Homo sapiens: one gene and its partners. Changing the gene in region 3 together with the main gene of any one other region gives a genetic interaction. Each region holds a gene or a part of one and is shown on either strand. Other genes may lie near its edges.

Region 1 (3,500 bases), on a different chromosome or scaffold from region 3:
GGAGCAGCCTGGGGACAGGCCGAAGTCCCTATTGGACACTGCAGCCACCTGCATTACTGTGCTTGGGCCCTGCAGGCAAACCAGGTCCCTCCCCATCTGGTGCCTGCTCCAGTCTCCAGCCGCACCACCATTCCACCCTTGTCTCCGAATCACCCACCTGCCTGAGGTCCTAGCAGTACACAAGCTGACCCCAGCCCAGAAATGCACTCCCCTGGGCTCCCTCCGCCTCCCACTCAGACTCCAAGTCACAGCCCAGGCCTGAGTCGGCATCCTGCTCCTGTTCCTCCCCTGGCCAGCACTTGGCTGTGTCCCATCTCTTTTTTTTTTTTTTTGAGACAGAGCCTCGCTGTGTCGCCCAGGCTGGAGTGCAGTGGTGTGATCTCAGGTCACTGCAACCTCCACCTCCCGGGTTCAAGTGATTCTCGTGCCTCACCCTCCCGAGTAGCTGGGATTACAGACATGCGCCCCCACACCTGACTAATTTTTCTATATTTTGTAGAGACAGGATTTCACCATGTTGGCCAGGCTGGTCTCAAACTCCTGACTTCAAGTGATCTGCCTGTCTCGGCCTCCCAAAGTGCTGGGATTCCAGGCGCGAGCCACCGTGCCCGGCCGGCTATGTCCCATCTCTGCCCTACTCACATGCACTGGAATGGCTGTGACCCCCTGTGCCCTCCCCGGCATTCCTAGGACTTGACGTGAGTTGCCCTCAACATAGATTTGTCCTTATCAGCGCGTAGTTTTGCTGAGTTGAAGGCTATGGCATTGGGAAGCGGGGCTGGGGTTAGGGACCGGGTCCAAATTCAAATGCCCAGGACTCAGGAGACGAAAGCAACTGAAGTGGGCCCAATGGCAGCCATGATGGGCAGAGGCACACACATCGCTCCGCTCTGTCCACTCAAAAAAGCAGCAAAGGCTGGGCGCGGTGGCACGCGCCTATAATCCCAGCACTTTGGGAGGCCAAGGCGGGCGGATCATGAGGTCAGGAGATCGAGACCATCCTGGCTAACACGGTGAAACCCCATCTCTACTAAAAATACAAAAAATTAGCCGGGCGCGGTGGCTGGCGCCTGTAGTCCCAGCTACTCGGGAGGCTGAGGCAGGAGAATGGCGTGAACCCAGGAGGCGGAGCCTGCAGTGAGCCAAGATCGTGCCACTGCACTCCGGCCTGGGCGAAAGAGCAAGACTCTGTCTCAAAAAAAAAAAGCAGCAAAATGGCTCGGTGCAGTGGCTCATGCCTATAATCTCAGCACTTTGAGAGGCCAAGGCAGGCAGATCACCTGAGGTCGGGAGTTGGAGACCAGCTTGACCAACATGGAGAAACCCCGTCTCTACTAAAAATACAAAGTTAGCTGGGCGTGGTGGCGCATGCCTGTAATCCCAGCTACTCGGGAGGCTGAGGCAGGAGAATCACTTGAACCTGGAAGGCAGAGGTTGCATGCAGTGAGTCAAGATTGCACCATTCCACTCCAGCCTGGGCAACAAGGGTGAAACTCCGTTTCAAAAAAAAAAAAAAAAAGCAGCAAAATGATGACCCTGCAGTTCCAGCACTTGTGTTTCATGAGAAGCTGGAGATCTGGATGGTATGTCAAATCTCCAGATAGCTTTTTCTAATATTTTTTGGAAATGAGGTCTCACTCTGTGATCCGGGCAGGAGTGTTGGTGTGATCATAGCTCACTGCAGCCTTGAAATCCTGGGCTCAAGTGATCCTCCTGCCTCAGCCTCCCAAAGTCCTGGGATTACAGGAGTGAGCCACCGCATCAGCCGAATCTCTAGACTTTTTAAAATTGGCAACTGATTCAAAACTTAAAACACACATTTTGGGCCAAAGGGAACTCTGCTGAGAATTACACTTTGGGCTACCGGCTTGGAGGAGGGCAGGGGGCGTGGGGGGCTGGTGGCTCAGGGGTTCTGCCCAGGGCTGTGTACTCACGCCATGGACTGGTGGAAGTCGGATAGGTCCTTCTGTGTGGCGTGCAGAAAGAGGACGGTGGCAGCCTGGGGACTCAGCGACCCGTCCCAGGAGGTGCTTCCCGCCTGAGGGGAGCAGGTGGAGGAGTGTCAGGACCTGAAGGGCAGCCCCGGCTGCGCCCAGCCCCAGGAGGGCAATACCTCGTGCTGGGTGACCTCGTGGGACACAAGCTGCTGCAGGAGGTGGAGGTGCACGGTGTAGCTCGGCTGCGAGCGGCTGGCCGAAGTGGCTCTCTGCAATGAGGCCTCTGTGAGCAGACAGGGCCTCACACTGGGTGCAGCCAGCCCCGCAACCCAGCAGACCGCCGCAAGAGCTGGGCATGGCCACTGGCCCAGTACCCGACCTACCCGCTTATGGATGAGTTGGAACTGGAGGTGGCACTGGCCTCGGTCTGGGTAGGTCTCAGTGCGGGGTTCCAGGGGGTACCACTGGTCCTCTCGGCAGCGCAGGTCCTGACAGGCGGGGATGCCCAGCCCGTGAGCGTCAGAACCTCATAGAGTCGGGGCAGCGGAGGCGACAGGAGGTGGACCCCAGGCTCAGCTTTGTGAGGACACAGAGCCTCTCCCCAGAACCCCTCCCAACCCCCTCCCTCTGCCTCGCTCCTGGGCCCCTTTCCTCATCCTCCTCACCTGCAGCCTCAGAACCACGTTCCCCAGAAAGTCGTCCTGGCCTTTGTCCTTCCGGGCCTCTTTAAAGATCCTGCGTCAGGCAGGGTCCCATAAGGGGGACGCAGCAAGGGTCGGAAGGGATTAGGCTGGAATCCACCCCCGGCCGCAGCCACCTGGACCCCAAAGGAGCCTGCACCCCAGCATCCAGTGTGCATGTTGGGGGATGGAGGGCAAAAGGAGCCCCAACCCCTTCCCTGTGAGCCCTGCAACACGAACCTGCGAAGCCCATGCAGATCCGTGAGCTCCCCAAGCTTCTGTCGGACAGACTCCACAGTGTCCAGGTCCCTGGCAGGACAGAGGTTTGAGAAGGAAGCAGAGAGAGTGCCTACGACCTCTTCCAGGAGGAGGTTCCGCCTCTCTCACCCCAGATCCCTTCCCTTCCCATCCCTAGGGGCAGGCCAGGTCACTCACCACATGTCCAGATGAAAGCTCGCATTGGTGATGTCCTCAAACTCCCTGTATGGAGAAAAGGGCGTGGTTGAGGGCCCTGGAGGGTGGATGCCCCCAGACGAAGCAGTAAGTGACCACAGCCCAGAGCCATGGAGTTGTAGCCTATCCCTGCCAAACTTCCCTCCTCCCAGCCGCATCCCTTTTTTTTTTTTTTTTTTTTTTTTTGAGATGGAGTCTAGTTCTGTCCCCCAGGCTGGAGGAGTGCAGTGGCAGGATCTAACTCACTGCAACCTCTGCCTCCTGGGTTCAAGCAATTTTCCTGCCTCAGCCTTCCAAGTAGCTGGGATTACAGGTGCCCGCCACCACACCTGGCTAATTTTTGTATTTTTAGTAGAGACGGGGTTTCACTGTGTTGGCCACACTGGTCTTGAGCTTCTGACCTCGTGATCCGCCCGCCTAGGCCTCCCAA
Region 2 (3,500 bases), on a different chromosome or scaffold from region 3:
AGGTGTGAGCCACCACACCTAGCCTTTTTTTTTTTTTTTTTTGATACAGAGTCTTGCCCAGGCTGGAGTGCAATGGTTTCATCTTCCCTGCAGCCTCTACCTCCTGGGTTCACCTCCTGCCTCAGCCGAGTAGCTGGGATTACAGACGCAAACGACCACTCCTGGCTATTTTTTTGTTTTTAGTAGAGACGGGGTTTTGCCATGTTGGCCAGGCTGGTCTCGAACTCCTGACCTCAGGTGATCTATCCGTCTCGGCCTCCCAAAGTGCTGGGATTACAGGCATGAACCACCATGCCTGGCCTTTTTTTTTTTTTTTTTTTGAGACAGAGTCTTGCTCTGTCACCCAGGCTTGAGTGCAGTGGTATGATCTCAGCTCACTGCAACCTCCACCTCCTGGGTTCAAGCAATTCTCCTGCGTCAGCCTCCCATGTAGCTGGGATTACAGGCATGTGCCACCGCAACTGGCTAATTTTTGTATTTTTAGTAGAGATGGAGTTTCACCATGTTGGCCAGGCTGGTCTCAAACTCCTGACCTCAGGTGATCCACCCACCCCGGCATGTCAAAGACTGGGATTACAGGCATGAGCCGCTGTGCCCGGCCAGGAACTATTTTTCCAACAGGTCAAAGTCACTTTGAATCAGAGCTCTGTTTACACACAACCTGGGTGAGTCATGCAAGTCACTGGTAAAGAGGAAGGACAGATGGCCCCCAGACCAAAACCTCAGGGATGTCAGAGAACGCATCTCCAGAGCCAACCCCCAGGCCTGGGGTTTTTCCTCCCTGGTCCATGACAGGCCTTCCTAAAGGACCTGAGGGGGCACTGTGGAGAATCCAGTGGAAGGTCCCTGCATGGAGGCTGAGCAGGCCCTGAGTGCCCCAGGGATGAAGAGCTTGGGGGTGGGAGGTCCAAAGGGCAGGAGAATGACCTTGTTGAACTGCGACCAGGACACAGAACGGTGCTGGAAGGCCTCCATACTGAGGCTGTTGTCATTGAAGATCTTCTGGGCCAGGAAGAGGAAGTGCTCTGGGAGCAGCCCCCGGTTGGTCCCCACCTCAGCCATGAACTTCAGGTTCAGAGTTTCACACATCTTCTCCCAGGGCACCCGCTCAGCCACCACAAAGGGCACGCGGTCCTGGGGAGAAGGGGGAAGAAGAGAGCACTGCAGGCTACCGTCTTGTTATTCCTCGGGCCGGCCTTCATCCCTCCCACCTGCCTGTGGCCTACCCCTCCACAGCCCCTGATATCGCTCACAAACATGCTGTTTTTTCTAGGTTACAGTGCTGTGGCCTGATAGTTGTTAAGACTGGGGTGAAAAGAGGTCAGAAGCACGAAAGCAGGCCCATGAGAAAGTGTTAAGGTCACACCCATTTAAACATGCCCACCACCCCATCAGCAGGCCTGCACCACTGCCCATGTTAGAACCCACCCTGCCCCTGTTCCCTCCAACTCCAGGACTTTCCTCACCATCTCAGAGAAGGCATTGTCCCACAGGATAGTGGCTTTGGCATTGTTGTCTTGGTTGCCATGGACGATGACCACCAGGGGCAGAGACAGGGCCTGAAGAGGGTGAGGACAGGGGTTTCTTTTCTTTCTTTCTTTCCTTTTTTTTTTTTTTTTTTTTTTTTTTTTTTTTTTTTTTTTTTTTTTTTTAGATAGTATCTCACTCTGTTGCCCAGGCTGGAGTGCAGTAGTGCAATCTCAGCTCACTGCAGCCTCAGCCTTCAGGGCTCAAGTGATCCTTCCACCTCAGCCTCCTGAATAGCTGGAACTACAGAAATGTACCACCTAATCCAGCTAATTATTTATTTATTTATTTTTGAGACAGAGTCTCGCTCTGTCACTCAGGCTGGAGTGCAGTGGCGCGATCTTGGCTCACTGCAAGCTCTCCCTCCCAGGTTCACGCCATTCTCCTGCTTCAGCCTCCCGAGTAGCTGGGACTCAGGCGCCCGCCACCATGCCTGGCTAATTTTTTGTATTTTTAGTAGATACGAGGTTTCACCGTGTTAGCCAGGATGGTCTCGATTTCCTGACCTCATGATCCGCCCGCCTTGGCCTCCCAAAGTGCTGGGATTACAGGCGTGAGCCACCATGCCCGGCCAATTTTTTATTTTTTGTAGAGATTGGATCTCCCTATGTAGCCCAGGCTGGTCTTAAACTTGCAGGCTCAAGCGATCCTCCTACCTTGGCCTCCCAAAGTGCTGAGTTGTTTTGTTTTGTTTTTGAGACATAGTCTTGCTCTGTCGCCCAGGCTGAAGGGCAGTGGCGCAATCTTGGCTCACTGCAACCTCCGCCTCCTGGGTTCAAGCGATTCTCCTGCTTAGCCTCCCGAGCAGCTGGGACTACAGGCCTGCACCACCACGCCCAGCTAATTTTTGTATTTTTAGTGGAGACGGGGTTTCACCATATTGGCCAGGCTGGTCTTGAACTCCTGACCTTGTGATCTACCCACCTCGGCCTCCCAAAGTGCTGGGATTACAGGCTTGAGCCACCATGCCCAGCCGGACAGGGGTTTCTTAGTGAAGCAAGAAGTTTCCTCAGGGGACTGGCTCTGAGCACTCAGAGAAGTTATTGGACTCACACATCATAATCAAAAAGCTCATGCCATGTTATTAAATGCGTTCTGAAGCTCAATCAGGGCCTCACCGTAGAGAAGTGGTTATTAGTCATCGCTATGGAACCAGACCTCCAGGTTTCAAATACCAGCTCCAACACTTAGCTGTGTGACTGGGACAAACTACTTAAACTCTCTGTCTCAATGTCCTTATCTATAAAATGAGGCTGATAATACTGCCTACCTCATAATGTTATTGTGAAAACCAGACGTGTGTGTGCTGGCACGCATGTGCGTATGTATCATTTAATAGAGTGCCCTGGTCTATAGGAAGTGCTTCCGAAGTGTTTGCTGCTATCCACTACCATTCCCTGCCCTGTGCACTCCATGCTCTTGCTCACCCCCACTCACCCGGGCCCCAGTGTGCATGAATCCCAGACACATGGGGTATGGGGCAGTCACAAGAGGTGAGGGTCCAGGGCCCTTGTGTGTGGCATTGGAGGAGGACTCGGGGTCCCAGATTGGGGCAGGGCTGGGCCACGGTTCACCTGGAGCTGGATGGGGAGTTTGCCGGGGCCAAGTGTGAAGCTGGCAGAGAAGAGCACAGCGCACTTCTCCTCTGTGACAGACTCAGTGCCCTTCCGCTCACACCGCTTGATCTTCTTGAGAAGCTGTGGGTGGGGTGAGGGAGAGCAAGGGCGAGGTCATGAGGACAGAGACCGCTCCTCCTGGGCTTCCTGACATCCTCTCCAAGGAGAGTCCCACAGTCTCCTAGTGGTGCCCCCCTCACTGCACCCCAAAGCCCCTCACCAGGTTCTTGAACAGGGCAGAGCAGCAGTTCCCAGGAATGCTGTTCTCCAAGGGCACAGTGTTGTTGATGATTTCTCCAGTGCTTTCTCTGCCAGGGGAGGTCAGAGTGTGAACGAGCTCATCTCACTGTCGTCAGG
Region 3 (3,500 bases):
GAAATGATATTGTCTGCTTATGTTCAGTAGTTGTGGTTACCTAGTTATTATGGAAGTGTTTCCACATTTTTATGAACAATTTAAAAAGTCATATATTATGGAGCAGAAAATATTAATTCTGATTACACAGTATCCTCGACATTGATTTCTGTTTTTACCTCCTAAAGAACTGCACAGTGAATCCAAAAGAAAGTATACTGAAAAGAGTGAAGGATATAGGATACATCTTTAAAGAGAAATTTGCTAAAGCTGTGGGACAGGGTTGTGTCGAAATTGGATCACAGGTAACTTGAATTCATTGTAATTCGTGGTACTATAGAGTAATAATATTAAAAGCAGCATCTTTCCAGTTCGTATAAATACTCTAACAGTATTTGTCTAGTAGTATAAAATACTGTCAGATACTATATCCCTGCTGCCTGTGTATGCTGCTATTTATGGGTAACTTTATGGAAAACTACCTCCCACCCCATTATAAAAACTATGTAATAAAGGAACACATAGCCATTGTAGAAATTTTGGAAAATACAACTAAGAAAAAAATTGAAATCTTTGATATTAAATTTTTGATTTTGCTTTGACTTCTACATGTATGACTGTTCATGTATGCATATCCTAATGTGAATGGGACTATACATGCCATTTGTCAGTGATATTATTGAGTGATATTATTTCAGGAAATCTAAAGCTAATATAATAGGTAAGAGTATGGGCCATGGAGTGACAGCCCTGGGTTTATATTTGGTTCTACCATTGTTGATCTTGGACATGTCATTTAACTTCTCTGAGATTCAGGTTCTATATTTGCTCTGCTTTGTTGTGTGGCATTAATGAGGATAATATACAAAAATATATTGGAAAACTGGAGTCCACTGTACACATTTATTTCAGTGTAGTGAGGTTATATTTTGATGCCATCAGTGTTTTAAACATTGATATTTAATGGTTCTTTTTGATTCTACAGCCATGCACCACTTAACAGGGATATGTTCTGACAAATGCATCATTAGGCAATTTTGTTGTGTGAACCTGGTAGAGTGTGTCTGTACAAACCTAGATGGTATAGCCGATTGTACATCTAAGCTGTATGATATAGCCTATTCATTCCTAGGCTACAGGCCTCTACAGCATGTGTACTGAATACTGTAGGTAATGGTAACATAATGTGTTACCATTTGTGTATCTAAATATATCCAAACATAGAAAAGGTAAAGATATAGTACAAAAGATAAAAAATGGAACATTTGCACAGAGCACTTACTATGAAAGGAGCTTACAGGATTGAAAGTTGCTCTGAATGAGTCAGTGAGTCGAGTGGCAAGTGAATGTGAAGGCCTACAATATTACCTATGACATGACTGTACACTATCGTAGACTTTATAAATACTACACTTAGGCTAAACTAATTTCATAAACATTTTTTCTTTCTTCAGTAGTAAATTAACCATAGCTCACTGTAACTTTTTTACTTTATAAATCTTCAGTTTGTAAGAAACTTTTGACTCTTATAACACTTAGCTTAAAACACAAACACCTTATACAGCTGTACAAAAATATTTTCTTTCTTTATAATCCTTATTCTGTACACTTTTTTCTATTTAAAAATTTTTTCAATTTCATAAAGATTTTTGCCAAAAACAAAGGCAAACACACACATTAGCCTAGGCCTACACAGGATCAGGATTAACAATACCACTGTCTTCTGCCTCCAAATTCTGTCCCAAGTCTTCAGGGACAATAAAATGCATAGAGCTGTCAACTCCTATGATGATGATGCTATCTTCTGGAATATCTCCTGAAGGAGCTGCCTGAGGGTGTTTTACATTTAACTTTTTTTTTTTTTTACAAGTAGAAGGAGGATGCTCTAAACTAATAAAAAGTATAGTATAATAAATACATAAACCAGTAACATGTTCATTATTAAGTATTATGTACTGTACATAATTGTATGTACTATACTTTTATATGACTGGCAGTGCAATAGGTTTATTTACATCAGCATCATCACAAAGATGTGAGTAATGTAATGCATTGCACTACATTACACTAAACAATAGGAATTTTTCAGCTCCATTATAATCTTATGGGACTACTGTTAGATATGCAGTCAGTTATTGACCAAAAACGTTGTTATGCGGTGCATGATTATATATGAGATTTTTGCTCTTAGTTTGGAAGGAAATAATATGGTGTGTGTTTATATTTCTAAAATTTGGTTATTCTTTCAAATAATGGGAACTAGTTATTTGGCTAAAACTTCTTGCTCATAAGGTCAGTTTGATCTGATTTTTGCCTGTGTCAGTTTTACTAAATTTATGGACAAAGACTGTCCTCTTAATCCTGGACAGCTATCTTGAAAATACATGTCCTAGGTCATGAGAAATGTTATATAAGGTACATAAAGTGCTTAAAATAGTACTGGGCACATAACCTATCTTTAGTATGAATGATATAAACTGAAATGGAGTTAAGGAAATCCAGGTACTGGACCTACCCTCTTGTTAATTTACTTGGGAATGTTAATCACCACTTAATACTTAAGTTGTGAGTTTTAGACAAGCTAGCTTTTGTGTTGTCTTGGCGGCCATATTTGTAAGAAGGGTGAGAAGTATGTTTTAAGAAAAGGCTTTTTAAAAAATTTTAGTAATTGTCAGCTGGGTATAGTGGTACATGCCTATAATCCCAGCCTCTTGGGAGGCCAAAGCAGGAGGATCTCTTGAGCCCAGGAGTGTGAAGGCCAGCCTGGGCAAAACAGTGAGACTCCATCTCAAAAAAAAAAAAAATTTCATAATTGTGATTTTCTAAAATAGCAGGCTCTTATTTTTCTTTTTGTTTGTTTGTAGCGATACAAACTTGGAGTTCGCTTGTATTACCGAGTAATGGAATCCATGCTTAAATCAGTAAGTTAAAAACAATATAAAAAAATTTCAGCCGGGCGCGGTGGCTCACGCCTGCAATCCCAGCACTTTGGGAGGCCGAGGTGGGCAGATCAGGAGGTCAAGGCATCAAGATCATCCTGGCCAAAATGGTGAAACCCTGTCTCTACTAAAAGTACAAAAATTAGCTGGGCGTGGTGGTGTAGACCTGTAGTCCCAGCTACTTGGCAGGCTGAGGCAGGAGAATCCCTTGAACCAGGGAGGTGGAGGTTGCAGTGAGCCAAGATTGTGCCATTTCACCCCAGCCTGGCAACAGAGCAAGACACCATCTAAAAAAAAAAAAAAAAAAAAAAAAAATTCAATGCTGACACAAATAAGGTTTCAATTAAACAACTTCTTTTTTTTTTTTTAAATTATCTGTTTCAGGAAGAAGAACGATTATCCATTCAAAATTTTAGGTAAATTTTTTACTTTTAGTAAAAAATTTTTTTCTTTTTATAGAAGTAAGTATTTTATAATCTTTTTTTTTTTCCTTTAGCAAACTTCTGAATGACAACATTTTTCATATGTCTTTATTGGCGTGCGCTCTTGAGGTTGTAATGGCCACATATAGCAGTAAGTTAA
Region 4 (3,500 bases), on a different chromosome or scaffold from region 3:
TAGGGGCCCATTACAATCTGGTCCCTGACTCTCCTCACCTTGTCACTCTCCTCCCTTAGTCCTGTGCTCCAGCAACTTCCAACTACGTAAGAGTTTAGAACCACACAGGAAGTTTTACCTAGACTGGTTGCTTTGTCTTATTACCTAGAGATCTCCTACCTAGATATCTTCAATACTCAAGAGTCACTTCCTCTAACAAGGCGGCTCCTCGTGTGTTGCCACATATTCACTGAAACATTTAATAAACACACTGCATGGTAATTATCTGTCTTGCTCATAAATAGTTTACCTTCTTGCAAGAGAAAATAGACATGTCTTGCTCAATGTTTCCTCTTGCAAGAAGGTAAACTATAGCTTAACCAGCATTCACTAACAAGGTGGGAAAAGTTTTAGAGCATTCATTTTCTTCCCAAATAATACACATGCATTGTTCATCCTTGTACTTGTATCTCTAGAACCTAGCACAGGGCCTGGCATATAGTTAGCATTCAAGCTTTTGTTGCTTCAATGAGTCCTGAAAAGTTTTGCAGAAGCTAGAGCACTGCACTAGATATTTTCTGTATCCACCTGGATATGGCTAGAAGGGCACCCCAGTTATATACAGGGAAAAAAATTCATACACATAAAATCAACTGCCTTTGTGACACTCTGCCTGCCACTCACTTGACAATGGGATCCGAAAGCCGCAGGCCTTCCAGGCTTAGATTCTGCAACTTGGAACACTGAGACAGTATGCCGTGGAGGGTGGACACTTCTATAACTGAGTTCGATAGGTCCATGTGCTGTACACGAAAAGGGCTAAACACGGAGAGAAAAAAGGAGCTCCATAGGTGGCTCTCACGGGTACATCCAATTTCAAACCAGACCCCTCTTCTCCCCAAATGAGCAGCCAATCACAAACAAGACTCTAAATACATACTTCAAGCATTAACTATAGGGTCATAAAACATATTGCTACTAGTGTATTCCCATCTTCATTCATTTTAAAATGCAAGAGGATTTTTGCCAAGTACAGATGTTGCTGCCAATATAGTCCCACTTAGAAAATAACGAGTGGGCATCACAACAATGAGCTGGATGTGGGTGACAAGGAGATTAAGACCATAACGGCTCCTGGTTTCTGGCAGGGGTGAGTGGGTGAGCAGCAATAGAACAGGGAAGGTAGCGGAAGAGAAAGTTTTAAAGGGAGACCAGGCTGGGCGCAGTGGCTCACGCCTGTAATCACAACACTTTGAAAGGCTGAGTCCAGTGGATCACGATGTCAGGATATCAAGACCAGCCTGGCCAGCATGGTGAAACCCAGTCTCTACTAAAAATACAAAAAATTAGTTGGGCGTGGTGGCGCACACCTGTAGTCCCCAGGTGCTCGAGAGGCTGAGGCAGAATTGCTTGAACCTGGCAGGCAGAGGTTGCAATGAGCCGAGATCACGCCACTGCACTCCAGCCTGGGTGACACAGCAAGACTCCGTCTCAAAAAACAAAAACAATAAAAAAAAAGGGAGGCCAAATTTGAGTTATGCTAATATTGAAGTCCTTGTAAGAAATTCAGGTACAGACGTTTTTAGGTAATTAGAAATTTGGGAATTTGAAAGGGAGGGCCAAGCTATAGATGAGGAACTGAGAGTCCTGGGCATAAATGTGGGTGTAGAGGACACAGCTTGTCCAGGGACAGCATTTGGATTTGAAAAAGGTGGCAGCCAGGAACCGACCCTGGAGTGAACAGAGGAAATCACATATGTGAAGGAGACTGAGAAGGAACAGCCACAGGAGGAACAGGATAAAAAGCAGTGGGAGAGGCGGTCCTGACTACGGAAAGAAGGGAAAAAGTACTGGAGTCAGGAGACATGTTTTATCTTTAGCTTTGTTGTCTTCAGCTTGTTTTTCTGTTCAGTACCTAGTTATTCTACTATGTGATAGCAGTAACCTCAGTATTGCAAAATTATCAGAACAGAAAATTCTTTTTCAAAATATTCTACAAAACAAACAAAAAGAGGGCATTTTTTTCAGGTTCCAAATTTCTCCAAGACAAAAATCATAAACCCCAAGCTACAAACATGAAAAGACTCCTCACTTTTTTTTATTTATCAGAAATGGGCATTGGGGAAGTAACTGGGCACCCTTGCATCTGCCAGTGAGTGCTTTACTTGTGCCTGCCTTGTGGGACTCACAGTCCCCCTATCAGCTGAGGACTTGAGAAGACAAATGTGCCTCTTTCACCCTGGGAAGAGACTAACAGTAAACTTGAGTGAAATGGGAACAGTGTCATTGAAATCTATGCTAGGTTTTAGCACAAAGGCCCCATAGCAAAGTATGGAATTAACATCCCACACTGCACAGATAACCTACCATAGGCTTTAAGGCTGAAGAAAGAAAAAAAAAAAAAAAGCTTTGATCTGTTTCTACCTCGAAATTTAGAAATAGTCTTTTCCAGGGATTTTTCATCTTTACCTGAAATGTTCAGCCAATGGTTGGTCCATAAATGATCGTGGGCAGCGGAAGGCAATCACCCCTTGAGACAGCAACCGACCAGTCACATCCGGGTGCAGATTTTTACCTGTGAGGTCTAAGGTCTGCCATAGAGACTCATCAGACCTATAAAAGAGGAGATACTTAATTTGGCCAGTCGGTCACACTAAATGCTGGAAGCCCTCAACAACATTACTAACAGGTAGGACACTGCTGCTAAATCTCCTTGAAGCATATTCTAAAAGAACTTTTGTTTTTAAGTTGGCTATACAATTAGCTATGATATTTTTAAGGCACTAGAGAATTTTTCTTGATTTCACCAGGGATAAGCTTCCATCTTTCTCTTTCTATATACTTCCAATTTAGATGGTTCAATGTGAACATTAGCACTGCCGTGATCTAGAACCAGAGAATCATATTCCAGCATTCAAGTTGACAAATTTAAAAAATGATTGCTCAAATCAATTAATTATTATATTACTAGGCAAATAGGATCCTCTAAGAAGTTTTAAATCTATTTGACACTTTTGTCAAGCAATTATGATTACTGTAGCAACATGGAAAATTACTAAAGGAACGAAAGTTAGCATTATTTTATTATGAAATAAGGCTGTCATAGATATTCAATAGCAACAGTCATGGTTCAGCTGTGCCTTATAATATATTTGAAGCTTAAAACATACACGTGTATATGTATGTGTACATATGTGTGTGTATGAACTAATGTGAAATAAGGGAAAAATACAACGGATTATAGATGGTGTTTCTAAAACAAAAGGGATGTTCTAAAAACGTACTGAATAGCACAGTAAGAGGGTTTTAATATCCATAGTTTAATTCAATTTAAAAAAAGAAAATGTGAAATATAAGCACATGAAGGAACATTTTAAATGCTTAGGTGTACTAGAATTTTCTTTTTTAATAGTGCTTGAAATAAGTGGACCACTGGCCAGAGTTATGAAATAACTTCATCATAAAAAAATTGTCAGTGTGATTTGTGTGACAAATCTATCATTAAAAAGGTGGACTGTAGA
Region 5 (3,500 bases), on a different chromosome or scaffold from region 3:
TAGATGAGATTAACACATTTAAGTCAGTAGACTTTGAGTAAAGCAGATTACCTTCCATAAAGTGTGGGCCTCATCCAATCAATCAATCAATCAGTTTAGGCTTTAATAGAAAAAGACTTATCTTCCCCTAGTAGAAGGAATTCTGCCAGCAGAGAGCCTTTGGATTTGAACTGCAACACTAACTCTTTCCTGGGTCTCCAGCCTGCTGGCCCGCCCTGATTTTGAATGTGCCAAGCCTCCACAATTGCATGGAACAATTCCTTAAAGTAAACCTCTACATATCCATCCTGTTGGCTCTTGGCTGTTTCTTTCGAGAACTGTGACTAGATTTTGGTTTTTCTTTTCCCTTTGTTTTTTATTGGGATGAAGGATTGTTTTCAATTCCTTAGAAACAAAATTTCAGGCTCCTTTTCTAAAATGAGAGGCATTTCAATTGAGTAAGTTTAGAAAAAAACCTAGCTATCAAGAAATAGTGATGTACTACTTTAAAACTTACTGAAATTCACTGTTGCTTCAGCTCATAGGTTCAAAATTGCTTAATTGCTCTCTCTTGTCTGAAGAGAACAGTATGCTGGGTATAAAACAAAAAAACTGATCAATTTGGAAGAAGGTGAGATTCAGAATTCTAACTCCCATTTTAAATTATTCCCTTGCAATCTAACATACTCTGTATTTTACTGAAAGTGTACTCACTTAAAATATATTTTTTTCTAACTGCAAAAGTAACAAACATATCCTCTGAAAGTACACTTTTTCTTCCTTCTATCTACCCACTGAAATGTAATGAATGCCTACCTGGTGCCCAACTCTACTGGCGGTAAATGAGAGAACAATGGAGTTTTTCATGAGTTCATGGAAATTAGTAGTAAAAAGGATACTAAATTAAACAAAACTAATCCTGTCGGTCCTCATTCTCCTCTACCTTTCTTCAAGGTTTGGCTCTATTGACTAGCACTCCTCTGTCCTTTATTCTGAAAGCCCACACTACTTGGTCCTGTCGTCACTCCCTTTTTGGTTCCTCTTCCTCCTGTCAATCCTCAAATGCTCATTTCACTTTAAAGAATTAACACTGGGTGTGTGCCTCTTAGGAGCCAGGTACTTTGCATCCATGATCATGTTTAAGAGTCACAGCTGGCCCTGGTTCAAATCCAGAGGTTGCTTGACTCCAAAGGCTGTGTTCTTCCCACTACACCTCCTGAAGAATAGGACCTACGGCAATAGGTGAGCTCACAGAATCTCTCATCTACAGACAACCTGTGGAGGAAAAATACATTCAGGTGGATATAGACATAGATACTCTTATATCTTTCCCTAGTATCTTCCTTTGAGATTTTATCACTTCTTAAGACTTTAATTTGCATCTCCATGTAGCTGATGCTACATGTTCTTTATTACAAGTCTTTATCTTTCTCCTAAATCCTAGCCTCAAATTTCCCACTGCAAGCTATGCAGTAGGATGCCACTGTCATGACAATTTAACAAACATAAACCCTTCTGACTTATTTATTTTCAATAAATCTTCATCTCCACTCCAGTCTTAAAGCCTGAGCCATCGTCACCTCTTCTTCCTCCTTTACTCCTGAGCCTTGGAGATTCCACCTTGGTAATTTAACTATGAAATAAAGCTCCTGCCTTCCAGTTCCACAATGCTGTCAAATTCTGGTCCTTTCTCACCTCATTTCTCAAGATTGCCAAGCACTTTAATTCACAGTCAGTCTCCCTGCCATTCCTCTTACAAATAATTTTACAAACTGCTTTCAGACTAATATTCATTGATCTCCAGCCTGAAACCCCCATTCACAACAAAGCCTTAGTTGTTCCTGTACAGTCGTCAAGCCTGCCTTTTTGCTCATGTTATTTCTTACCCAAATTACTCCTCTTCCTCCTCCTCTTCCAGTCTACTGAAACTCAATCCATCCTTCAAGTGCTGACTTAAAGCCTACCTCCTGCTCAGTAAAGCCTTCTCTGACTACCGCCAACCAAATCACTTTCTCCTTTCATTCTGAATGCAATTCCTATATGATTCAGCAATTGATCTCATGCTGGTCTGTGAAAGTGCTTCTGTGATATTCAAATTTTATGTAAAAACTTTTACCTATAGTGTTTTTATGCTAGGACTGCTTCTAAAATAGATTAATGAGTATATCTTACACTTTATCTTGGTGATCAGGAAATAACTATTCATTTGATTTGGTTAACTGCTCTTCAGAGACCTGAGGGTAGAGAAAAATATTCCAGGAGCAGCAGTCCAAAGTGATCAATATATATTAACCCCTTTAAAATAATGATCCTTTAAACCAAAGGATTAAAGAATCAAATTACAGACAAAATAACAGACAACTTTCTCAGTTCAGAAATAAAGTAAGAACTTAAAGGAAATGGTTGATAGACTATAATCTTTTGAAATGTAAAGTTCTGGCCAAACAATCCTTGTGGTAATAATTTTTAATGGTAAACGACGAGTATACAGTAATCAATATATAAACCAAAATAATACACCTGGCCTTACACACGCATAGAATTATCCTAGTTTTACCTGGCCCCCATAATGGTATTTTAAAGCAAAGAATCTATATTTACTATAGTCTACAGTTGGAGAAAATGGTCAAAATATTACAGGAAATAAGGGTTACAAAATAAAACCCTCTAGTGGGGTTATCTTATCAGTTTCATGGTTGTTGGGTGACAGAATTCATAAGTAGAGAATAGTCTGTTTAATAGTTACAAAAACGAAAAATCATGAAAATTAAGGCTTTAGTAAAATGACTCTATTATGTTTGAAAAAAAGGAAGTTCCATTAATTCTGCATATCATATAAATCTTAAATATTTCAGTGCAGTGATCAATTTCCACTAAGGATAAAAAAAGAAAAACCGAATTTATAATAAGGGTTTCTTTCATTGAGAGGTAAGAACTTAGAGATATTTTTTATCATTGGCATTGGTTTCTGAGGCTTTAAGCAACTTGCAGAAAAATTTAACTCAGTTTTTAGAAAGTTATTTTACTCAGTTAAAAAAATATGATATTAATCTCTCCATGACAGATTTATTTTCACCATACTAGTGGTGGGGAAGCTGGTTTAGAAACAAATGTCTTGGCTGGGTGTGGTGGCTTGTGCCTACAATCTCAGCACTTTGGGAGGCCAAGATGGGAGGACTGCTTGAGGCCTGGAGTTTGAAACCAGCCTGGGCAACACAGTGAGACCCTGTCTCTACAAAAAAATTTAAAAAAATTAGCCAGGTGTTGTGGCACATGCTTGTGGTCCCAGCTACTCAGGAGGCCGAGATGGGAGGATCACTTGATCTCAGAAGGTCAAGGCTGCAGTGAGCCGTGATCATGCCACTGCACTCCTGCCTGGGCAACAGAACAATACCGTCTCAAAAAAAAGAAAAAGAAGCAAATTATCTGGCTTCTTTGAGCCTGTCTCCTTCATTCGTTCAGCCTGTATTTATGTTAAGTGCTGACTACATGCCAGGATAGATATTGTCCTAAGATATATT
Region 6 (3,010 bases), on a different chromosome or scaffold from region 3:
GAGGTCAGGAGTTTGAGACCAGCCTGGCCAACATGGTGAAACCCTGTCTCTGCTAAAATACAAAAATTAGCCAGGTGTGTTGGCAGGCGCCTATAATCCCAGCTACTCAGGAGGCCGAGGCAGGAGAATCACTTGACCCCCCCTAAAAAAAAATCCTAATCCTAACCCAGAAATAAAATGGCTCTACTCATGAATGGGAAAGTTTGTCATCTTTGAGATTTTATATATATAGACACACACACACACACATGTTGTGTGTATATATATATGCACTGTCAGTCAAATATTCACATTCTAAATGACTGTCAGAAATATTCCATGGAAACTTCATCTCTGAAGATTATACAGATTTAAACTGAACATCATCTACCTACAGCAAATCACACTTCCCATCTTTGAACTAAAAGGAACCAGAACTTACCCCACCTCCTAACAAGCAATATTTGGTCCTATTGCTTCTAAACTATTGCAACCAAAATTCCAGTAACCAAAACATTTGCTGTGTTCTCTAGGCATATCAAGTGTTTTATTTAGACCATTTCTGAGGATTTTGCTTTAAAGGCTTTACATGCAGCATTCAAGTATCTCATAATATAAGACAGTCTAGTCTTTCAGAGATCATGTATCATCAAGGTCTGCAGAGTTTTCACTGTCATTTGCAACAAGAGCCTCTCTGTTCTCGTAAGTCCAGAAGCCATTCAAATCGATTAGAATGGTGGTTACTGTGTCTCCTTGATTACTGTTGATTAAATCCTGAAGAGAGATTTTCAAAGGATCCTTTGGTTTTACCATGTCAAAGATTTCATCCTGCAAGAGAAAAAAAAATACAATGAAATTTGATCCACTTAATTTCTATCACACATAGTGATCCAAAATTCAGGGCTGTTTGCATCCACTGAAGTACAGAGGAATAAAATTGAGGGCTGCCACTTGGGCTTATGTTAATTTTTTGTTCTACTTTTTTTCTTTTCCATTTAACAGGCAGTTTCCTTTTCTCTACCTACAACCACAAAATTTTATTGGATAACTCCTTAGCTATGTGATAGCTATCCTTCGTTTTATAGATGAAGAAACCAAGGCTCAGTGCCTAATCTAGCTACATAGGTAATTAGTGGCAGAACTATCTAATGCAGTGTTCAGGGACTGCACGTTAACTAGTTTCTTATATATTTTTCTGTTGCCTTCTAATTGGTGAAACAAAGTTTTGTCTGTAGTTTTTGTTTTTGTTGTTTTGTTTTGTTTTTGAGATGGAGTCTCACTCTGTCATCCAGGCTGGAGTGCAGTAGTGCGATCTTGGCTTACTGCAACCTCCGCCTCCTGGGTTCAAGCGATTCTTCTGCCTCAGCCTCCCGAGTAGGTGGGACTACAGGTGCACGCCACCACACCCAGCTAATTTTTGTATTTTTAGTAGAGATGGGGGTTTCACCATATTGGCCAGGCTGGTCTCAAACTCCTGATGTTAAGTAATCTGCCTGCTTTGGCCTCCCAAATTGCTGGAATTATAGGTGTGAGCCACTGCGCCCAGCCTTTTTTTTTTTTTTTTGAGACAGAGTTTCACCCTTGTTGCCCAGGCTGGAGTGCAATGGTGTGATCTCGGCTCACCGCAACCTCTGCCTCCTGGGTTCAAGCGATTCTCCTGCCTCAGCCTTCCAAGTAGCTGGGATTACAGGCGTGTGCCACCACATCTGGCCAATTTTTGTATTTTCAGTAGAGACGGGGTTTCTCCATATTGGTCAGGCTGGTCTTGAACTCCCGACCTCAGGTGATCCGCCTGCCTTGGCCTCCCAAAGTGCTGGGATTACAGGCGTGAGCCACCGTGCCCAGCCCCTTCTTTTTTTGTGTGTGTGAGATGGAGTGTCCCTCTGTCCCAGGCTGGAGTGCAGTAGTGCGATCTTGGCTCGCTGCAAACTTTGCCTCCCAGGTTCAAGCCATTCTCCTGTCTTGACCTCCCAAATAGCTGGGATTACAGCCGTGTACCACCACACCCGGCTAACAAGGGTTTGGTTTAATTTTTTTTTGCTAACCGTTCAACTCAATTAAACATCTAAATGTTTCAGAGATAGTGACAAAGCTTCATTTCCAATGTTGATGTCAACATTTTGTTAGGATGGGAGAGGGGAGTTTTCTCTGGATATGCATTAGACATCCAAAAAGAAGCTAAATTCTGCTAAAACTTACTGGAACATATAGAAGACCTCCTTCTATATTATGAAGTGTACAACAGATATTTACAGGGAATTAGTACATGTTTTCTAATCTTTTTGTAGTAAAATAACTACAAAATTTGTAGTAAAATAAAATTTGTAGCAAAATTACTAAAAGTGAACAGGCTGTTTGAGGTAGCATACTAAAACAGTTTCCAAGGTAAAAAATCAGTTTACAGTTGAACAGACTGCCGTAGGATATAGACTGTACTGACTGTCTTAATTTTCTTTTTTTTCTTTTGAGATGGAGTTTCACTCTTGTTGTCCAGGCTGGAGTGCAGTGGCACAATCTCAGCTCACTGCAACCTCCACCTCCTGGGCTCCAACGATTCTCCTGCCTCAGCCTCCCGAGTAGCCGGGATTACATGCATGCGCCACCATGCCCAGCTAATTTTTGTATTTTTAGTAGAGACGGGGTTTCACCATGTTGACCAGGCTGGTCTTGAACTCCTGACCTCGGATGATCCGCCCGCCTCAGCCTCCCAACGTGCTGGGATTACAAGCATGAGCCACTGAGCCCGGCCCCCTGACTGTCTTAATTAAAATGAATGAATGCTTCCAATGAAAACATAATGATGACAATACTAAAATTATAAACTACATAAATAGTCCAAATGTGGTCTCAGTTCGTAATGATTTAAATATCAGTTCAGAACAAAAAGCAAACACTTGATTCAAATAGTACTTCATTAGTTGCTTTCATATAAAATTTCATGTAATACAAATGACTATCTCATAATTATCTGGTAATACGTAAATTAAAGGAAAAGATAACCTTGACATCTTGAAATGAAACAGGATCTTGT
Region 7 (3,500 bases), on a different chromosome or scaffold from region 3:
GAGGGAGGCGGCCATGGAGAGCTGGCTGCCAGGCGAGAGGCACTTACCCAGGTGCAGGAAGTCGGCGCTGCAGGATGGGGGCGGAGCACTGTGGGCAGACGGGAAGGATGGTGGGACGGTCACAGAGTCCGAATTGAGAAATTCGCCGAAGAGATCAGGATTGGAGCAGGGCTGGGAGTTGTTGCCTGAAGACGGCAGAAGCGGGCCAAAGGGGTCAGCTGTGGGGACAGGCGGGCATGGGGAGGACTCAGCCCGGCTGCCTGAAGACAAAGGAGCCCAGCTCTGGAGTCAGGCCTGCCCAAGAGGCCACTCCAGCTGGGCAGCCCAGACCCCACGGCTGCCCTCGCAGGGGCACTGAGGCAGTCAGCCCAGGGGCTCCCCGTGCCCCACGCCTCAGGATGACTTTCCCAGGGACACAGCAACACTGCTGAGATGGAGAAGCCAGTAGCTCCCGGCCCGTGAGCTCAGGTGGGCAGCACAGAACCCTGACATGACCCCGAGGCTGCTCCTGGGGGAGGTGGGGGAAGGGCACGTTCCCTTCCTGCAAGCACCTTCGAAACACGCCCATGCAGTGAGAATGACTCAGCCTCATCACTCATCTACTGTGAAGCCACTCGCCTTCAGAACAGAAACACGTACCAGCGGCAGGGGGCCCTCCTCTTGGGGTGCTCTGCACGCTCAGGGGAGGGGCCGGGCTTGCCAGGAGCAGCGGGTCCTCGCTGAGCAGATCCTCCGGGGGCCCCTGGGAGGCGGCCTCAGGGGGCCCAAGGAGGCAGCTGAGCAGGTCGGTGTTGCTGGAGGGGGCCTTGCAGGCCTGCGGGGGTACAGCTGGCCCTGCGCCCACCTCGGAGTGCAGGCCCAGGAGGTCGACCCCGTCTTCCTGTGGCACAGGCTCTGGCAGCACAGCCGGTGTCTCCACCTCAAAAACCAAGTCCTGCTGCACCAGCCCTGCTGCCAGGCCGGGGGGCTCTGGGTCGGCCCTGGGTTCCTGGCCCTCGCTGGAGATCGGGGATCCCCCTTCATCTGACACCTCACTCTCGTCTCTGTCCTCCATCAGGGCAGACTCGCTCTCCTTGGAAGAGGCATTTTCTGCACCAGTCTCTGCCTCCTTCTCTTCTGCGAAAAGGAAACAAAACCACAGGCTAGTGAGACCACACGGCCAGCACCAGGGTCCCCACGGCGCGTCCCTTCAGGGCCTCCTCGGCCCAGGGCCTTGGTGAACACACGTGGCCAGCACCAGGGTCCCCACGGCGCGTCCCTTCAGGGCCTCCTCGGCCCAGGGCCTTGGTGAACACACGTGGCCAGCACCAGGGTCCCCATGGCATGGCCCCTCGGCACCTCCTCGGCCCAGGGCCTTGGCAAGTGCTGCAGGAACACCAGGGTCCCCACGGCGCGTCCCCTCAGCCCAGGGCCTTGGCGAACCCACATGGCCAGCACCAATGTCCCCATGGCACGGCCCCTCAGCGCCTCCTTGGCCCAGGGCCCTGGCGAGTGCTGCAGAAGCTTCTGGGCGGGCGGTGGGGTGTTGTTCCTGAGGCGTCTCCAGCACACCCACCTCCAGCCTCTGCCTCAAGGGTCTGCCTGTGGCTCTCTCCGCCTGGGCCTCTGCGGTGCCTCAGGCTGAGTCAAGTGGGGGCCACATGGCAGCACTAGGGGGTAGGAACACCAATCAAGGGTGCTCTGGGAACAGGCGGCAGAAGGGACGAGCCCGATGGGAAGGCCAGGGGTGCTGGGACAGGAAGTGGCAGGTGCATCCCTTGGGGTGTGTCTGGGGTGAGGTCCAGTGATGGCGCCCAGGTGTTTTCCTGAAAAGCCTCAGAGGGGCTGGGAGCCCACTGGGGGTGTGGGCAAAGAGAGGTGTGGGATCCCCAGGTGGTGACAGTCTGTCCCTCCGCCCAGGCCCTTCCCCTGTACCCAGGGGCCCCGCCAGCATGGCCCATGCTGCCAGCCTCCCCAGGCCCACAGACTGGGATGAAGAGCGAGGGTTGTTATTTCAGACTTTGTGGGCATGTTCTTTTTTTTTCACCTTTAAAAAGATATGAAATCATTCTTAGCTCGTGAGCCATTAAAGAACAGGCTGACATGCCGGGTGCACAGCCCCACTGAGGTGCAACTCAGCTCTGCCGGAGGCCCGTCTCCCAAGACGCTTGCCCTGCCCCAGGGGCACCTCCAGACCAGGGGCCTGCCCTCTGCAAGTGGCCAGGTCCAGGGACGCTGCCTACCCTGCCAGTCCAGCGTGTGCAGGAAGCGACTGGCGTCCGCGCTGCTGCTTGGCGGTGAGTCAGAGTCTGTGGGTTCGGCTTCCGGGGACCCTGCCCCAGCATCATACTGAGCCGTGGAGCCAGGCTGCCGGGGAAGCTCCGGCTTCCCTGCAGGAGAGGGAGGGCGTCAGGGCACTGGCACTGGCCAGCAGCCTCGGGGCAACACTGACCCCAGAGCTGGGAAGTGCAGCCAGGCGGGCGCCAGCACCGTGGCAGGCCAGGCCATCGGTAAAGCAGACCAATGACATGACGGGGAGGGGCTCTCTGAACAGATTCCTGCTATCCACTCGGATGCCACTCTGGGCCATGCGTGCACACTTGGGCACAGCACACGCACACATGAACACGCACAAGGAACCCACCACTGAGGCATCAAACGCCACACATATGCAGGGTACACATGAATGCACACACACAGCTGCACGGTACACACGAATGCATAGAGCACACACACAGGCGCACAGTACACACAAATGCACACACACAGATGCAGGGTACACACGAATGCACACACAGCACACACAGATGCACAGTATACACGAATGCACAGACAGCACACACATAGATGCAGGGTACACATGAATACACACAGCACACACAGATGCACAGTACACATGAATGCACACACAGATGCATGGTACACACGGATGCACAGACAGCACACACACAGATGCAGGGTACACATGAATGCACACACAGCACACACACAGATGCACAGTACACATGAATGCACACACAGCACACAGATGCACAGTACACACGAATGCACACACAGCACATACACACATGCAGGGTACACACGAATGCAAAGCACACACAGATGCACGGTACACATGAATGCACACACAGCACAAATGCACAGTACACAGGAATGCACACACAGCACACACAGATGCATGGTACACAGGAATGCACACACACAGATGCACAGTACACACGAATGCACACACAGCACATACACACATGCAGGGTACACATGAATGCACACACACAGATGCACAGTACACACGAATGCACACACAGCACATACACACATGCAGGGTACACATGAATGCACACACACAGATGCACAGTACACACGAATGCACACACAGCACATACACACATGCAGGGTACACATGAATGCACACACAGCACACACAGATGCACAGTACACATGAATGCACACAGTACACACAGATGCACAGTACACACGAATGCACACACAGCAGAGATGCATGGTACACACAAATGCACACA

The links.
Region 1: changes in RB1 (region 3) and UNC13D together harm fitness more than expected from each alone (negative genetic interaction), as found in Homo sapiens cells (one large-scale study listed by BioGRID).
Region 2: changes in RB1 (region 3) and STAT6 together harm fitness more than expected from each alone (negative genetic interaction), as found in Homo sapiens cells (one large-scale study listed by BioGRID).
Region 4: changes in RB1 (region 3) and SKP2 together harm fitness more than expected from each alone (negative genetic interaction), as found in Homo sapiens cells (one study listed by BioGRID).
Region 5: changes in RB1 (region 3) and TAF5L together harm fitness more than expected from each alone (negative genetic interaction), as found in Homo sapiens cells (one large-scale study listed by BioGRID).
Region 6: changes in RB1 (region 3) and PPP2R3C together harm fitness more than expected from each alone (negative genetic interaction), as found in Homo sapiens cells (one large-scale study listed by BioGRID).
Region 7: changes in RB1 (region 3) and GAK together harm fitness more than expected from each alone (negative genetic interaction), as found in Homo sapiens cells (one large-scale study listed by BioGRID).

Annotation. Positions count from the first base shown.
Region 1 is NC_000017.11:75,837,905-75,841,404, forward strand, and holds part of UNC13D (protein unc-13 homolog D), read right to left. Parts: intron 3,098-3,500; coding exon 3,053-3,097; intron 2,927-3,052; coding exon 2,858-2,926; intron 2,673-2,857; coding exon 2,603-2,672; intron 2,426-2,602; coding exon 2,321-2,425; intron 2,207-2,320; coding exon 2,114-2,206; intron 2,039-2,113; coding exon 1,935-2,038; intron 1-1,934. UniProt on the Homo sapiens protein: Plays a role in cytotoxic granule exocytosis in lymphocytes. Required for both granule maturation and granule docking and priming at the immunologic synapse.
Region 2 is NC_000012.12:57,101,363-57,104,862, forward strand, and holds part of STAT6 (signal transducer and activator of transcription 6), read right to left. Parts: intron 3,452-3,500; coding exon 3,364-3,451; intron 3,230-3,363; exon of another isoform or gene 3,225-3,229; coding exon 3,102-3,224; exon of another isoform or gene 2,998-3,101; coding exon of another isoform or gene 2,965-2,997; intron 1,560-2,964; coding exon 1,467-1,559; intron 1,135-1,466; coding exon 928-1,134; intron 1-927. UniProt on the Homo sapiens protein: Carries out a dual function: signal transduction and activation of transcription. Involved in IL4/interleukin-4- and IL3/interleukin-3-mediated signaling.
Region 3 is NC_000013.11:48,376,751-48,380,250, forward strand, and holds part of RB1 (retinoblastoma-associated protein), read left to right. Parts: intron 1-167; coding exon 168-284; intron 285-2,843; coding exon 2,844-2,900; intron 2,901-3,084; exon of another isoform or gene 3,085-3,124; intron 3,125-3,302; coding exon 3,303-3,334; intron 3,335-3,414; coding exon 3,415-3,491; intron 3,492-3,500. UniProt on the Homo sapiens protein: Tumor suppressor that is a key regulator of the G1/S transition of the cell cycle. The hypophosphorylated form binds transcription regulators of the E2F family, preventing transcription of E2F-responsive genes.
Region 4 is NC_000005.10:36,165,611-36,169,110, reverse strand, and holds part of SKP2 (S-phase kinase-associated protein 2), read right to left. Parts: intron 2,593-3,500; coding exon 2,449-2,592; intron 799-2,448; coding exon 664-798; intron 1-663. UniProt on the Homo sapiens protein: Substrate recognition component of a SCF (SKP1-CUL1-F-box protein) E3 ubiquitin-protein ligase complex which mediates the ubiquitination and subsequent proteasomal degradation of target proteins involved in cell cycle progression, signal transduction and transcription.
Region 5 is NC_000001.11:229,605,623-229,609,122, forward strand, and holds part of TAF5L (TAF5-like RNA polymerase II p300/CBP-associated factor-associated factor 65 kDa subunit 5L), read right to left. Parts: intron 2,214-3,500; exon of another isoform or gene 2,186-2,213; coding exon of another isoform or gene 2,152-2,185; intron 1,255-2,151; exon of another isoform or gene 796-1,254; intron 572-795; exon of another isoform or gene 497-571; intron 1-496. UniProt on the Homo sapiens protein: Functions as a component of the PCAF complex. The PCAF complex is capable of efficiently acetylating histones in a nucleosomal context. The PCAF complex could be considered as the human version of the yeast SAGA complex.
Region 6 is NC_000014.9:35,084,972-35,087,981, forward strand, and holds the end of PPP2R3C (serine/threonine-protein phosphatase 2A regulatory subunit B'' subunit gamma), read right to left. Parts: coding exon 2,980-3,010; intron 808-2,979; coding exon 619-807; 3' UTR 501-618; downstream 1-500. UniProt on the Homo sapiens protein: May regulate MCM3AP phosphorylation through phosphatase recruitment. May act as a negative regulator of ABCB1 expression and function through the dephosphorylation of ABCB1 by TFPI2/PPP2R3C complex.
Region 7 is NC_000004.12:866,317-869,816, forward strand, and holds part of GAK (cyclin-G-associated kinase), read right to left. Parts: intron 2,370-3,500; coding exon 2,223-2,369; intron 1,117-2,222; coding exon 640-1,116; intron 219-639; coding exon 48-218; intron 1-47. UniProt on the Homo sapiens protein: Associates with cyclin G and CDK5. Seems to act as an auxilin homolog that is involved in the uncoating of clathrin-coated vesicles by Hsc70 in non-neuronal cells. Expression oscillates slightly during the cell cycle, peaking at G1.